Homo sapiens: one gene and its partners. The protein of the gene in region 1 interacts with the protein of each later gene in a biochemical or structural test. Each region holds a gene or a part of one and is shown on either strand. Other genes may lie near its edges.

Evidence for each region.
Region 2: the proteins of OTUD5 (region 1) and SUPT16H form a complex in vitro, tested with the Homo sapiens proteins (one study listed by BioGRID).
Region 3: the proteins of OTUD5 (region 1) and SUB1 form a complex in vitro, tested with the Homo sapiens proteins (one large-scale study listed by BioGRID).
Region 4: the proteins of OTUD5 (region 1) and TRPV4 interact in a test that uses a peptide from one of them, tested with the Homo sapiens proteins (one large-scale study listed by BioGRID).

What each region holds. Positions count from the first base shown.
Region 1 is NC_000023.11:48,951,108-48,954,607, reverse strand, and holds part of OTUD5 (OTU domain-containing protein 5), read left to right. Parts: intron 1-3,500. UniProt on the Homo sapiens protein: Deubiquitinating enzyme that functions as a negative regulator of the innate immune system. Has peptidase activity towards 'Lys-48'- and 'Lys-63'-linked polyubiquitin chains. Can also cleave 'Lys-11'-linked ubiquitin chains (in vitro).
Region 2 is NC_000014.9:21,356,520-21,360,019, reverse strand, and holds part of SUPT16H (FACT complex subunit SPT16), read left to right. Parts: intron 1-410; coding exon 411-536; intron 537-1,592; coding exon 1,593-1,705; intron 1,706-2,017; coding exon 2,018-2,093; intron 2,094-2,653; coding exon 2,654-2,823; intron 2,824-3,500. UniProt on the Homo sapiens protein: Component of the FACT complex, a general chromatin factor that acts to reorganize nucleosomes. The FACT complex is involved in multiple processes that require DNA as a template such as mRNA elongation, DNA replication and DNA repair.
Region 3 is NC_000005.10:32,599,057-32,602,556, forward strand, and holds part of SUB1 (activated RNA polymerase II transcriptional coactivator p15), read left to right. Parts: coding exon 1-13; intron 14-1,948; coding exon 1,949-2,028; 3' UTR 2,029-3,500.
Region 4 is NC_000012.12:109,788,399-109,791,898, forward strand, and holds part of TRPV4 (transient receptor potential cation channel subfamily V member 4), read right to left. Parts: intron 345-3,500; coding exon of another isoform or gene 319-344; coding exon 2-318; intron 1-1. UniProt on the Homo sapiens protein: Non-selective calcium permeant cation channel involved in osmotic sensitivity and mechanosensitivity. Activation by exposure to hypotonicity within the physiological range exhibits an outward rectification.

The sequences.
Region 1 (3,500 bases):
TTGAGCTCCTTGTTCTTGGTCCCTTCCTCCCATCATTAATTCTGGCACGATAAGCCATTTGTACTCAAGGGTCAGGACCAGTTATTTCTTCTCTCTCTGGTTGGGTAGTTTCTTTCCTCCTCTAGAAGCAGGGAGCCATACATCACTGGTCCTAGGGACAGAGGAAAAACATCCTATGCAGCCATGATAATTCAAAAACACCTCCTTACTCCCCTCCCTTGCGATACATCCCTGGTCCCAGGGACAGAGAGAAAGAACATCCTATGCTGCCATGGTAACTCAAAAACACTTCCTTATGCCCCTTGCAGTCCCTCCCTTATACTTGTCCCCATAAGAACATAAGAGTAAGCCGGGCATAGTGGCGCATGCCTGTAGTCCCAGCTACTCGGGAGGCTGAGGCGGGAGGATCACTTGAGCCCTGGAGTTCAAGACCTGCTTGGCAACATAGCGAGACCTCATCTTTACTAATAAAAAAAAAAGAATATGAAAATCAAGTTTTGTGGGTTCATGAAACCTGCCCTTCCCAATGACAGGAGAGGCTTTCTGTCCCCACACTTCTTAGGACAAAGAAGGTGATCCTCTTCTCCCTGCCTCACCTGGTCCAACTTGAGAGCTTTTGGGGATGAGAAGAGGGAAGATTCCTCCTGCCACCCCAGTCTTGGTCCTAAACTGTCACTAGGGGTGGTTGTAGCCTGGAGGTCAGTTGGATCCCTTGGGAAGAGAGGCGTCGTTGAGGGGGAGTCTAGATGGCGATTCTGGGGTTCTGACTACTTGGGCTTCCTCTTTGTCCTGATTCTCTTGTATCCCTACTTCCTTTAGGAGTCTTTTTGGCACTCTGGGGTCCAGGTGCTGGGTGGGTGGTGATGTCAGGGGTTCCCAGGCATGGCTGCCTTGCTGAGAGTCTGCTCTATGAAAAGGTTGGCCTGTAAGCATCCTGAGTTTGGAGACCCCACAGAGCTCTTTGAGAAGGGGCATGTGAACTGAGGTGGTGGAAAAAGCTGGGTGTGGCACGGTAGTTGGTGCCTGGGTTCCAACTCTGGGTCTTTCAAGGCTTTGCTGGATGAACCAGGGTAGGTTCTACCTATGCTCTCTGGGCCTCAGTTTCCTCACTGGCCAGGCAAAATGCTGGTGAGGTGTTGTTTAGCTTTGGGATTTTAGGGAACTCAGTCCAAAGTTCTCTGGACCTGGAGGTGGCAAAGAATGGTGGATGTCTTTTGAGGAGGAACTGGGTTTCTCCCCTCTCTTCCTGGCTCCTCTGTTCCCTCTCAGCCATCCAAGCTTGGTGGGCAGGACAAGCAGCCTGTTTTGTGTGAGGCTCAGGGTTGATGAACAGCCATTTTTTGTGGGCAGCCATGTTGTAATGAACAAGCTCGATGGGATTTCCTGTCAGGAGGCCTGTTGGATAGTGGTGTAGAGAGGTAGAGTTGTGTGTGGAGTTTGGGCTTTGGAGCAAGGCAAGCTTTGAGCCATCATCCCTCAATTCTCTCATCACCTCCAGACCTCAGCATCTCCTCCTTACCTGCTTTATAGCTTTAGGCAAACTACTTGCCCCCTCAGCTGCCCATTTTGCAAAAGTTTGTCCATGCCCAGGTGTGTCTGACCTTGCACACCTTGGACCTTGGCCGGTTCTTCCTCTTGCCCAGAATGGGCAGTTTGCCCCAGGGTCATCTTGGTTCTTCCTAGGAGCCTTTGTCCACTCCTAGTAACCTATCTTTGATAGCAAAGGCCCTTCATTTGGCATCTAGGAACCTGCTGATTTCTTGGGCTCTTCTTACCCCAACTGGAATTGGGTAGCTAGCTGGTGGGGAAGCAGGAAGGGGTCTCTGCCCAGGCAACGTGGATTTGAGTCCTGTTTCTGCAGTAAGCTTTTCTGTGGTCTTCAGGCAGTTCTCTTTTCTGGTTCTTGGTTTCTCCCTCCATGAAATGGGTAGTGTTGAGGAGGGAGGTTGGACTCATTGCTCTGAAGCAAGTTATAGTCTCCTCCCTGCTCCCACTCCCCTCACCCTTCATGAAAGTTTTAAGTGGGACCCCTTGGCCTTTGGGGATTGTGCTAGGACATTTCAAGCAGTGTTCAGCGTCCTTGGCTGGTGCTGAGCCCTTGGGTGTGTTTCTTTTAACAACTTTAATGAGATGTAATTCATGTACCATACTATTCACCTCTTTGAAGTGTACAGTTCAGTGGCTTTTAGTATATTCACAGATTTGTGCGTCCATCACATCACTACAGTCCATTTTAGAACATTTTCATCACCTTAAAGAGAAATCCAGCACTCTTTAGCTATGATCCCCCAATTTCCTCATCCCTTTCCAGCCTCTGGCAACCACTAATCTACTTTCTGGCTTGATTGATTTGTCTGTTCTGGATGTTTCATGTAAATGGAATAATAGAATATGCAGTTGTTTGTTACTTGGCTTTTTTCACTTAGCATAATATGTTCAAGGCTTATCCATGTTGTAGCATACATCAGTGCTTCATTCCTTTCTATTACTGAATAACAGGACCTTGGGTTTTTTTGTTTTTTGGTTTTTGTTTTTGTTTTTGTTTTTTTTTTAAGGTGGAGTCTTGCTCTGCTGCCCAGGCTGGAGTGCAGTGGCGCAATCTCAGGTCGCTGCAACCTCCGGCTTCCGGGTTCAAGTGATTCTCCTGCCTCAGCCTCCCAAGTAGCTGGGGCTACAGGCATCTGCCACCACACCCGGCTAATTTTTGTATATTTAGTAGAGATGGGGTTTCACCATGTTGGCAAAGCTGGTCTCCTGAACTCCTGACCTCAGGTGATCTGCCTGCCTTGGCCTCCCAAAGTGCTGGGATTACAGGTGTGAGTCACCGCACCCTGCCAATCTTAGAGGTTTTTAATCCCCCTGCCCTCAGTGGCCTAGCCAAATGTTGGGGCCTTGCTCTTCTCCCCTTCTGCCCTGGAGGGCTTGTGTTGGTCCTTAGAGAGTAGTGTGTCTATGTTCCTCGTTGGATGGGTTGCCTGTGTGTGTTTTTTTTTGAGATGGAGTCTCACTCTGTCCCCCAGGCTGGAGTGTAGTGGCGCGATCTTGGCTCACTGCAACCTCCACCTCCCAGGTTCACACCATTCTCCTGCCTCAGCCTCCCGAGTAGCTGGAACTACAGGTGCCTGCCACCTCGTCTGGCTAATATTTTTGTATTTTTAGTAGAGACAGGGATTCACTGTGTTAGCCAGGATGATCTCGATCTCCTGACTTCGTGATCCGCCCACCTCGGCCTCCCAAAGTGCTGGGATTACAGGCGTGAGCCACCACGCCTGGCCCCCTGTGTTTTGTCCATGGAGCCAGGCTAGTGTTCCTGGGTGCTTTGCTGGAGGGGGTGGTCTTGGCACCAGGGCTGCTGGGACAGAGCTGTGAGTCACAGAATGCTAAACACCTTTTGACCATAGGCTCTGGGAAGACATCTGTCCATGAACTGCCACTGCTGCTGCCATCTTTTGCCCCCCCACCCCACCCCCACTTCAGTGGCAGCTCATCCATCCATAGGC
Region 2 (3,500 bases), on another chromosome or scaffold:
TCTCACTTAAGAACATTTAAGAGGATTAAATAAAATAATGCCTCTAAAGGCCACAAGGCCTGGCATCTAGAAGGGGCTCATAAGCATGTTTGTTCCTTTGGTGTGTTATATGGTGGCCAGCAAATGTTTTATACGAGATCTCCAGATTTCTCTTTCTAAAATGAAGTTTTGCTTTAGATAAGATTTGTTACCAACATGATTTCCAAAGTTCCTGTAATAAGTAGGAGCACAGCACTTTTTCAAATGTACACTGTTTCCATTCCCAAGCATCATTATTTATGATGACACCAGGGGTGGTTTAATTATTTTTGCATGCATGCTGTGGAGGCCCAAGTTTGGATCACTGCCATTTCCATCACAGATACCTTTGTGTTTCTGACTTCTGTGTTCTTTCTGTTTTATGCCGACAGAATGCCATCATGTTTGGGAAGAAGCGGCACACGGATGTGCAGTTCTACACAGAAGTGGGAGAGATAACCACGGACTTGGGGAAACATCAGCATATGCATGACCGAGATGACCTCTATGCTGAGCAGGTTTGTGAAATTTAGTATTGTATTTGCAGGATAGTGAGGGAGGATGAGGCCAAATCCAAGCTCAGGGATTGTATTTTATAAACAAACTGGGCTGGCGTGGTGACTCGCGCCTGTAATCCCAGCACTTTGGGAGGCCAACATGGGCAGATCACCTGAGGGTCAGGAGTTCGAGACCAGCCTGGCCAATGTGGTGAAACCCTGTCTGTACTAAAAATACATAAATTAGCTGGGCGTGGTGGGTGGTGGTAGTCCCAGCTAGTCGGGAGGCTAAGGCAGGATAATCACTTGAACCCAAGAGGCAGAGGTTGCAGTGAGCTGAGATAGCGCCACTGCACTCCAGCCTGGGCGACAGAGTGAGACTCCATCTCAATAAATAAATAGCCAGGTGCAGTGGCTCACGCCTATAATCCCAGCACTTTGGGAGGCCAACACAGGCAGATCACGAGGTCAGGAGATCAAGACCATCCTGGCTAACACAGTGAAACGCTGTCTCTACTAAAAATACAAAAAAATTAGCCGGGTGTAGTGGCGGGCTCCTGTAGTCCCAGCTACTCGGGAGGCTGAGGCGGGAGAATGGCATGAACCTGGGAGGCAGAGGTTGTGGGCCAAGATCGCGCCACCGCACTCCAGCCTGGGCGACTAGCAAGACTCCATCTCCAAAAATAAATAAATAAATAAATAAACAACCCTGAATCTGTTTGTGCAGAGCAACTCAAGTATCTGCTGAGATAGGGTATTACAAGAGTTTAGGCTTAGGTTGCAGACTCAGCTTGACAGGTAATGGCATGGTGACCTTAAATATTAAAGGTGTATGTACATGTTAGTTTTATAGTTACGAGAGAATGAAGGGCAACGAAAGCACTTCAGGGATGATCTGTGCAGCAAACCACCATGGCACACGTTTACCTGTGTAACAAACCTGCAAATCCTGCCCATGCACTCCTGAACTTAAAAGTTGGAATTTTTATTTTAAAGCACAAAAGCACTTCAGACTTTTTGAGGGGAGGTACTGTTAACAAATGTGATGGCTGTATTTGATATTTTTTTCTTCTACAGATGGAACGAGAAATGAGGCACAAACTGAAAACAGCCTTTAAAAATTTCATTGAGAAAGTAGAGGCTCTAACTAAGGAGGAACTGGAATTTGAAGTGCCTTTTAGGGACTTGGGGTAACCTATCTTATTTTTGGCTTGAAGTTTGACTGGTCTGTCTTTTGGTACAATAAATTATTCTTCCTTTAATAATAATTTAACATATCATATCCTTTTTTCCTATGACTAATAATCTTTGAGACATCCATTTTTTCTTGAAAATGTTTAAGGGTTTAGGTGAGTGGCTAACTCTTAAGAGGCTTCCTCTGGATGAGTCTCCAGTGAGTATGCTGGAGCTGTTTGGAATGGGGAGAGGGAAGAAGTTTGTCTGTTGTGGTAGGAGCAGTCTCTCTCGTGATGAGCTCAGTCTTAAAAGTTTGTCTCTTCCAGATTTAACGGAGCTCCCTATAGGAGTACCTGCCTCCTTCAGCCCACTAGTAGTGCGCTGGTAAATGCTACGGAATGGGTGAGTGTTTCTTACTTTCTTTTAGTAAGAAAATTGTTAGAGAAAATAAAGAAGGATAGGTGTTTTTTATCCTAATTATTGTCATTTTCATTTTTGATATTTACTTAGACTTAAAACTCATTGAACAAATGTTACTTTTAAAGTCTCTTTAGGGCAGGCATAATGGCTCACACCTGTAATCCCAGCACAATTAGAGGCCAAGGTGGGAGGAACACTTGAGGCCAGGAACTCAAGACCAGTCTGGGCAACATAGCAAGAACCTATCTCTCTTTTTTTTATTTTTTATTTTTTAAGATAATGTCTTTTTAAATAGTTTATTTTAAATGGTTCCTTCACATAGTTTCCTTGAGTTTATTCTCCTTGAGGGATGATTTTTGTATCTTGCAGATCCTTTTTCTGTGGCTTCTTAGTATGTTGTACTGCCTCAGTCTTTCAAAAAAAAAACCAAAAAACAGCTTAAGTTATCTTTTATGTAGTGATTTAGATCATGAAAGTTATTTGAAATATTATTGCTTTGGGGGAAATACTTATATGCTAATGATTCAGTTTCTCCCTGACAGCCACCTTTTGTGGTGACATTGGATGAGGTAGAGCTGATCCACTTTGAGCGGGTCCAGTTTCACCTGAAGAACTTTGATATGGTAATCGTCTACAAGGACTACAGCAAGAAAGTGACCATGATCAACGCCATTCCTGTAGCCTCTCTTGACCCCATCAAGGAATGGTTGAAGTAAGTAAATCTGCCATCAGTCTCCCATTTAGCCCATGAGCCCTGTTTTATAGAATTTGAATGTGGTATGTTGTGCATAAAATCTACTGATATACTTAAAGTGAGACTGCCTTTTGGTTGTTACAGACCAGGACTTGAAAACTTGAGATCTATTAGATAACGGAGCTGTTCACTTTTTCTTGAATTCCCAACAATAGCTTGTGCATACTTAACACAAAGAAAATCAAAATCTAAGATCTTTTTTGTTTTCAGTGTTGCCCAGGCTGGTCTCAAACTCCTGGGCTCAAGCGATCCTCCCACGTCGGTCTCCCAACGTACCAGGATTACAGGCACAAGCCACTGCACCCAGTCAATGTAGAGCATATTTACAATAGCTTTTGAAGCATCCTTTTCTGCTCTTCACCCATTATCTTTATATTTTCTACATATTTTGTAGTGGTGGTGGTGGTGGTTGTTTGAGACAGGGTCTCACTGTGTTGCCCAGGCTCAAGTGTAGTGGTGCAGTCACAGCTCACTGCAGCCTCAAACTCTTGGATTCAGGCAACCTTCCTGCATCAGCATCCCAAGTAGCTGGGACTACAGGCATGTGCTACCACACCCAGCTAATTTTTTTTTACTAGAGATGAGGTTATTCTAGGATGCAGTCAAGTTAGTTGGATTCTGTTTGATCTTTCAAG
Region 3 (3,500 bases), on another chromosome or scaffold:
CCAGGAAGAAAAGGTGAGGTCTAATTACTTGAATTTTATTACAGTGTTAGGACTAAACGACAACTTTTCTGAGTAGCTTACTTGAAATGTTGGCAGGACACACGGGGCAAGGAAGAGTCTTACTCAATTGATTCTCTATCTTCTGTAGTTATTTTGGACATGATACTTAACATTTTTTTAATGAGATGTCTTAATACAGCTTTTGGGAATAAAACCCAGAAAAGTAACACCCCTAATATCACTTCAGTTGGCTGCTAATTTACTTGAACAATTTTTAAAAAGGTTTATGCAATTCTGAAGCAGATTAGGCACTATCTGGGAACTTGTAAAATCAGGAATGGAAAATCTTGGTTTACAATGCTTCCTTTTGATTCAGCTCCTAAAAGCTATTCTTTAGGGCATTACTCTTCAAGCGGATCTCTGCTTTCCTTCCATTTGTGCTTCATCCAGTCCCAAGCCTCTTAGCATTGTAGAAACATATTTTGTATAATTCACCAAACAGCTAGAGAAGGTGAGCCAACCTAAATTTGTATATTTGGATTGCTGCTCTAGGTTGACCCTCAGCTAAAGAAAAATGCTTCCTTATTTAGTTTTATTCTGCCTGCCTGTTAGTTTGAAAGGTACCACTTGTTTGCTTCATGCAGTTTTTTTTTTTTTGGTTAAACTCAGCCTCTATATGTGTTTATATGCTTTCATATTTTCTTCAAGTCACTTCTGGATTGGTAATTCACGTACCAGAGTGGCCGATGCCATATTTCTTGTTTATTCTTTTTTTTCAATTTCATGGCCTTCCAGCAGTTTTCTGGGAATACTTTCTGCCAGTTCTTGTTTACTTCTCTGTTTATATGCGTCGGTATTGGAATGCTAGAACGTTAAAGTACAAAATATAGAAAATATAAAATTTCTGTTCATACTTTTACATCTTAAACTGGAAAGACATATCTCACATTTTTTAACCATTTATGTGTTAGGTGATATGCTAAGTTCATTATTCATGTTACTTAATCATTTACAACAACTCTTTGGCGTATAGATGCCATTTTACTGGTGAGGAAACTAAGGCTTACAAGGTGATGTAGTTCTTTTTTAAGGGTCATACACTTAGTGAAAGTGAGGCTGGAATTTTAACCCTGATAGGGTGACCCTAGAGTGCAGTTACCCGGGTATACTCTCTGAGGAGTCCTGTATGAATCACGTCCTGGGAATTTTTCCAAAGTGAAATGAATGCTTCTGGAAGAACTCAGCACAATTGGCTTGAATTCCTGTGGAAATTTTGGGCAAATATTGGAACCAGCTGGAAATATAGTAATGGGGTATCACATGCCAAATCTGGACCTGACCATTTTAGCCTGATAGTTGACGGGTATTAGTAAGATGTGTCTTCAAACCCTTATTTATTCTCATTGGTTACAATAGGTACTATGCAGGATGCACTGTGGAAAGTAAGACTGGATATGAGATTGATAATGCTCAGTAAATTGTGATGATATGTAATTAACAAATGTAAGAGATATGATTTTCAGTATTGTAGCATTGTGTCCAAGTGGCAATTTTTTTTTTTTTTTTAGATGGAGTCTTGCTCTCTTGCCCAGGCTGGAGTGCAGTGGCATGATCTTGGCTCACTGTAACTTCCACCTCCCAGGTTCGAGCAATTCTCCTGTCTCAGCCTCTTGAGTAGCTGGGATTACAGGTGCCCACCACCATGCCCGGCTAATTTTTGTATTTTTAGTAGAGATGGGGTTTCACCATGTTGGGCCAGGCTGGTCTTGAACTCCTGACCTCAAGTGATCCACCCGCCTTGGCCTCCCAAAGTGCTGGGATTACAGGTGTGAGCCACCGCGCCCAGCCTAAAGTGGCAATTTTGATAAAACAGTATTCTAGTTGGAAGTATGAAAATCCTCAACGCTTAAATAGATTTTCACCTTTGAATTTTTAAACTTTGTTTTAGGTATTTCTTTAAATCCAGAACAATGGAGCCAGCTGAAGGAACAGATTTCTGACATTGATGATGCAGTAAGAAAACTGTAAAATTCGAGCCATATAAATAAAACCTGTACTGTTCTAGTTGTTTTAATCTGTCTTTTTACATTGGCTTTTGTTTTCTAAATGTTCTCCAAGCTATTGTATGTTTGGATTGCAGAAGAATTTGTAAGATGAATACTTTTTTTTAATGTGCATTATTAAAAATATTGAGTGAAGCTAATTGTCAACTTTATTAAGGATTACTTTGTCTGCCCACCACCTAGTGTAAAATAAAATCAAGTAATACAATCTTAACTGTTGTGGCCTTTTTTGATCATAAGAGTTGGTACTGTTTAAGGCCAAAAGTAACAGTTTTTATAGATCTTTTAGTTTCAACTCAGCTTTTACAATAAAAAGGATTTGTATTGCATTGAGTTTATAAACTTTTGGTTTGTGAACTTCATATTTGATCTTTTCTCTTCCAATCAAATGTCTAGGCTTGTTTGACTTCCACCCCCAATGGTTTTTCACTCTTTTTATTTACTTCATTTTCCTTTAATAACTTAATCTCTTCATGTTCAGTTTTTACTTCACTCTTTATTCTTTTCTTTGATTATGGTATGCTTATTTGGAAAGTCAGTGAAACTGTCAAAATGTTATCTCAATAAGATACTTATATGAGAACTACAATCACCGAATCTACTGTATTCAATATTAGCAGATCTAATTTGATAAACAACATGGCTTGTGTGAAAACTGAGCAGGTGTTTGTTTACCCATAGTGTTCTGTGTAGTTATTGCTTAGTCTGCAGAAAATAATGACTTAGATGAGATGTCTGACTTGCTTTCACTTATTAAACATGTTCACCATGGGATGATGTCTGTAACATCAGATATTGTTCAACTAGACTAGGATTTAATAAAAATTGTGAAAGCTTACTGGCCTAACATTTTATTTTATAATATTGGGTATGAATTATATGTAGCCAGAGATGTCATTAAGCTTTACTGTTATAGTAGGTAATATGGTTAGTTTGTAGGGAAAAGAGCATATGAGCACATGCTTGTGTATTTTGGCCTTTGCCCCAGTAGAACAGACCAATGGCATTCTAGACTTGATGATACTAAGTTTTAGCAGACACTAGTAAGTGGTTTGTATTTAACCATACTGATGAAGCAGACAGATTGAGGCACAGATTTTAGTGGCTTTGTGGCAATAAATAGGGCATGGTGTGCCTTAGGAAAAGAATGTTTATAAAGGGAATTATAACTGAAATTAAAGGAGGCGGCAGTGAAGAGGAAATAATTCTCTTCTATCTAAATGATATACATATGATATTTTGAGATTTTTATAACAGCAGTGGAACACAATTCTAGGTAGAGTAGAAAAAGGAAAGTTTTAAAGACATATAAAAGATTCTTGTTGACAAATTATTTTTGGTAGCAAATCTCAAATGGTTACCTGCTATTAAGGTCTGCCATATTAGAGTTTTGCACTATTTTGCTACCAAGTTTGATTCATACATCTAAAACATTTT
Region 4 (3,500 bases), on another chromosome or scaffold:
CCTGCAGCTTCCAGATGTGCTTGCTCTCCTTGGAGACCTGGCCCACTGTCTCGCCCATGAGGGCAATGAGCATGTTGAGGAGCAGCACAAAGGTGAGGATGATGTAGGTCACCAGCAGGATGATGAAGACCACGGGGTACTTGGTGCTGCTCAGCATCTCCAGGTCGCCCATGCCGATGGTCAGCTTAAACAGGTCCAGGAGGAAGGTGCTGAAGGTCTCGCTGTCACGGCACGAGGGGTAAGTGGGCACTGTGCAGTTGGTCTGGTCCTCATTGCACACCTTCATGTTGGCACACGGGTTCAGGAGGGAGACCAGGGCTGTGGGAGGATAGGGGTGGCACTCACTGAGTGTGAGCACACCCACAGAGAGGTGGAGGGTGTCATTCTCATTTGCTGGAGGAGAAAGCTGAGGCCTAGTGAGCGGAGCACGCTGGCCCACACGCTGACCCATGTCACCCTACACATCAGCCAAGCCACACCAGACCCAGGTCCTCCTGATCCCAAAACCTTTGAAGCCTTTCCATAAACTCTTGCTGATAAGGAAGAGGTTATCTCTCTCTCTCTCTCTTTCTTTCTGAGATGGGGTCTTGCTATGTTGCCCAGGCTGGAGTGCAGTGGCTACTCACAGGCTCAATCCCACTACTGATAAGCGTAGGAGTTTTGACCTGCTCTGTTTCCAACCTGGGACAGTTCACCCCTCCTTACACAACCTGGTGGTTCCCTGCTACCGGGAGGGAAAAGGTTTTCAGGATCTAGTCCAGGGAGGGTCTCAGTTTTTCCCACCAGGGGACATTTGACAATGTCTAGAGACATATTTGGTTGTTACAACTGGGGGTGGGGGTGCTACTGGCATCAGGTGGGTGGAGGCCAGGGGTGCTGCCTGACACCCTACAATGCACAGGATGGTCCCCGCCACGAAGAATGATCTGGTCTCAAATGTCAATAGTGTTGGGAAATCCTAATGCGGCCTACCATTCTTAGAGGTCTTGGGGGCTCTGGAATGCCCCTATTCGCAGGGGTAGACTCTCTCTCTGACAGTTTCCCACTCCACCCCAACCCAGAGAGGAAAAGTGGGGGCTGAAACCAGGCATCAGTCCTGACTGTCCCCAAAGCCGTGTTCTCTAAGGGGCCTCTCCTGCTCTAGACATCTCAAACTCATCATGGTTCTCCTTTCCTACTAAGCCCAGGTGGAGCTTCAGATTCCTTCTCAACACAGTTTGGCAGCAACAACCTGTCCCTAAACCAGCCAGGGAGGGGAGCATGAAGAAGACTCAGTCCCATCAGTCAGTGGGGCACAGAATGTCATACTGCCTGCAACCAGGGATTAGAGTATGCAGATTTCAACTCATATGCTAATGTTCTTCAGTTGTATAGTACCTGGTGAAACACTGTGTTGAGAAGGATTCTGAGACCTTGTCTGGACTCACCGGAAAAACTGTTCTGTGATCCATTAGTGATGTCTGCTATGGACACCAAAGTGTGGGAACAGAAGCATGTGTGTCCTGTTTATGTCATGTCAGCCTCAGAATTGAGATCTAGTGCATCCTATAAGGAGAAGACCTGCAACCAAGCTGACTGCTAAGCTGCTACTCTAACCCTTGTTTCTCCTTAGTTTCAATAACTAGGACTGCAGTAGGGCTAGATCCCTGACCTGAATCCCAAACTGTTGTTGAACCCTTGACACTGTCTAGTTTGTCCAGTGTGATCCCTGGGAAGGGAAAGCTGTACCCTGTCCCTATCTCCCCAGTGAAAACTACAATTCCACTTCCCACCAATAATCTACCTAGAGACTTGGCCACTATCGTGGGTTAAAATATCACCCTTGTCAGATTCCTGTGCCAGGCTCGTCCCCAGATGAACCTGCTCAGATGTGTATGTGTCCAGGTCTAACCTGAGTTGGCCATTCCCCTTTGGATGCTGGGCATTGATGTCAGATTACCCACACCTCGGGGATCAGCCCAAGGACTTGGTCAGTTTCTCCAGCCCTGGTCCCTGGTCCTTCTCCCATGACCCATGCCACTGAGGTCCCAGAATGCTTCTTAGTGGCATCATGACATCACGAAGAAGGTATATCAAGGGAGCTGATGTTGGGCTTTAAGAAAATACCTGGGCTGCTAGTTTAATTATTAAATTTTATCCTTCCATGTATCCATCCTCCTTCAATGTGGCTTTACAGCTTCTCCCACTAAGAAGTGGAGTCTAGGCCAGGTGCAGTGGCTCGCGCCTATAATCCTGCACTTTGGGAGGCTGAGGCAGGAGGACTGCTTGAGCCCAGGAGTTCAAGACCAGCCTGGGCAACATAGCAAGACCCTGCCTCCACCAAAAAAAAAAAATGGAAAAAAAGAAGTGGCGTCTATTTCCCCATCCCTTGAATCGAGGCTGGCCTTGTGACTTGCTTTGGCCAACAGAGTAAGGCAGCAGTGATGCCATGCCAGGAGGTGTCCTTGAACACTTCTGCTCATGTTCTTGGAACCCTAAGGCCACCATGTGGACAAGCCCAAGCTAGCTGTCCAGAAATGAGTGACCATGTGGAAGATAGATAGCAAACCCCCTCTAACCAAGTCCATACTAGCTAGACCAGTCAGCCAGCAGCCAGCCTGCCAGCTGACCACAGGCACAAGAGCCTGTAGGGATCAGCCAAACCTGGCCCAGGGCAGCACAGCCACCCAGCTGACCCATTGACTCATAAGCAATAGTAAGTTGGCCTGGTACAGTGGCTCACGCCTGTAATCCCAGCACTTTGGGAGGCCAAGGTGGGTGGATCACTTGGGGTCAGGAGTTCGAGACCAGCCTGGCCAACATAGTGAAACCCCATCTCTACCAAAAATATAAAACTTAGCCATGCGTGGTGGCACACGCCTGTAATCCCAGCTATTCGAGAGGCTGAGGCAAGAGAATCGCTTGAACCCAGGAGGCAGAGATTGCAGTGAGCCAAGAGCACCACTGCCCTCCAGCCTTGGTGACAGAGTGAGACCTTGCCACAAAAAAAATAATAATAATAAGTGGGTGCTATTTTAAGCCCCACTTTAGGTGGCTTCCTTTGTAGCAATAGCTAATACTCCAGTTTTGCCATTCACCAGCTTTTTTTTTTTTTTTTTTTTTGAGACAGAGTCTCGCTGTGTTGCCCAGGCTGGAGTGCAGTGGTGCCATCTTGGCTTACTGCAACCTCCACCCCCTGGGTTCAAGCGATTCTTGTGCCTCAGCCTCCCGAGTAGCTGGGTCTATAGTTGCGCGCCACCATGCCTGTCTAATTTTTGTATTTTTTGGTAGAGACGGGGTTTTGCCATGTTGGCCAGGCTGGTCTCAAACTCCTGACCTCAAGTGATCTACCCGCCTCAGCCTCCTGAAGTGCTGGGATTACAGATGTGAGCCACTGCGCCCGGCCACCATTCACTGGCTTTTGAACTTGTGCTAGTTATTTAACCCTCCTAAGCCTCAGTTTCCTTTTCTATAATAGGGGATAATAAAGGCACTTAGCTTACAGGCTTGTTGGGAGGCAA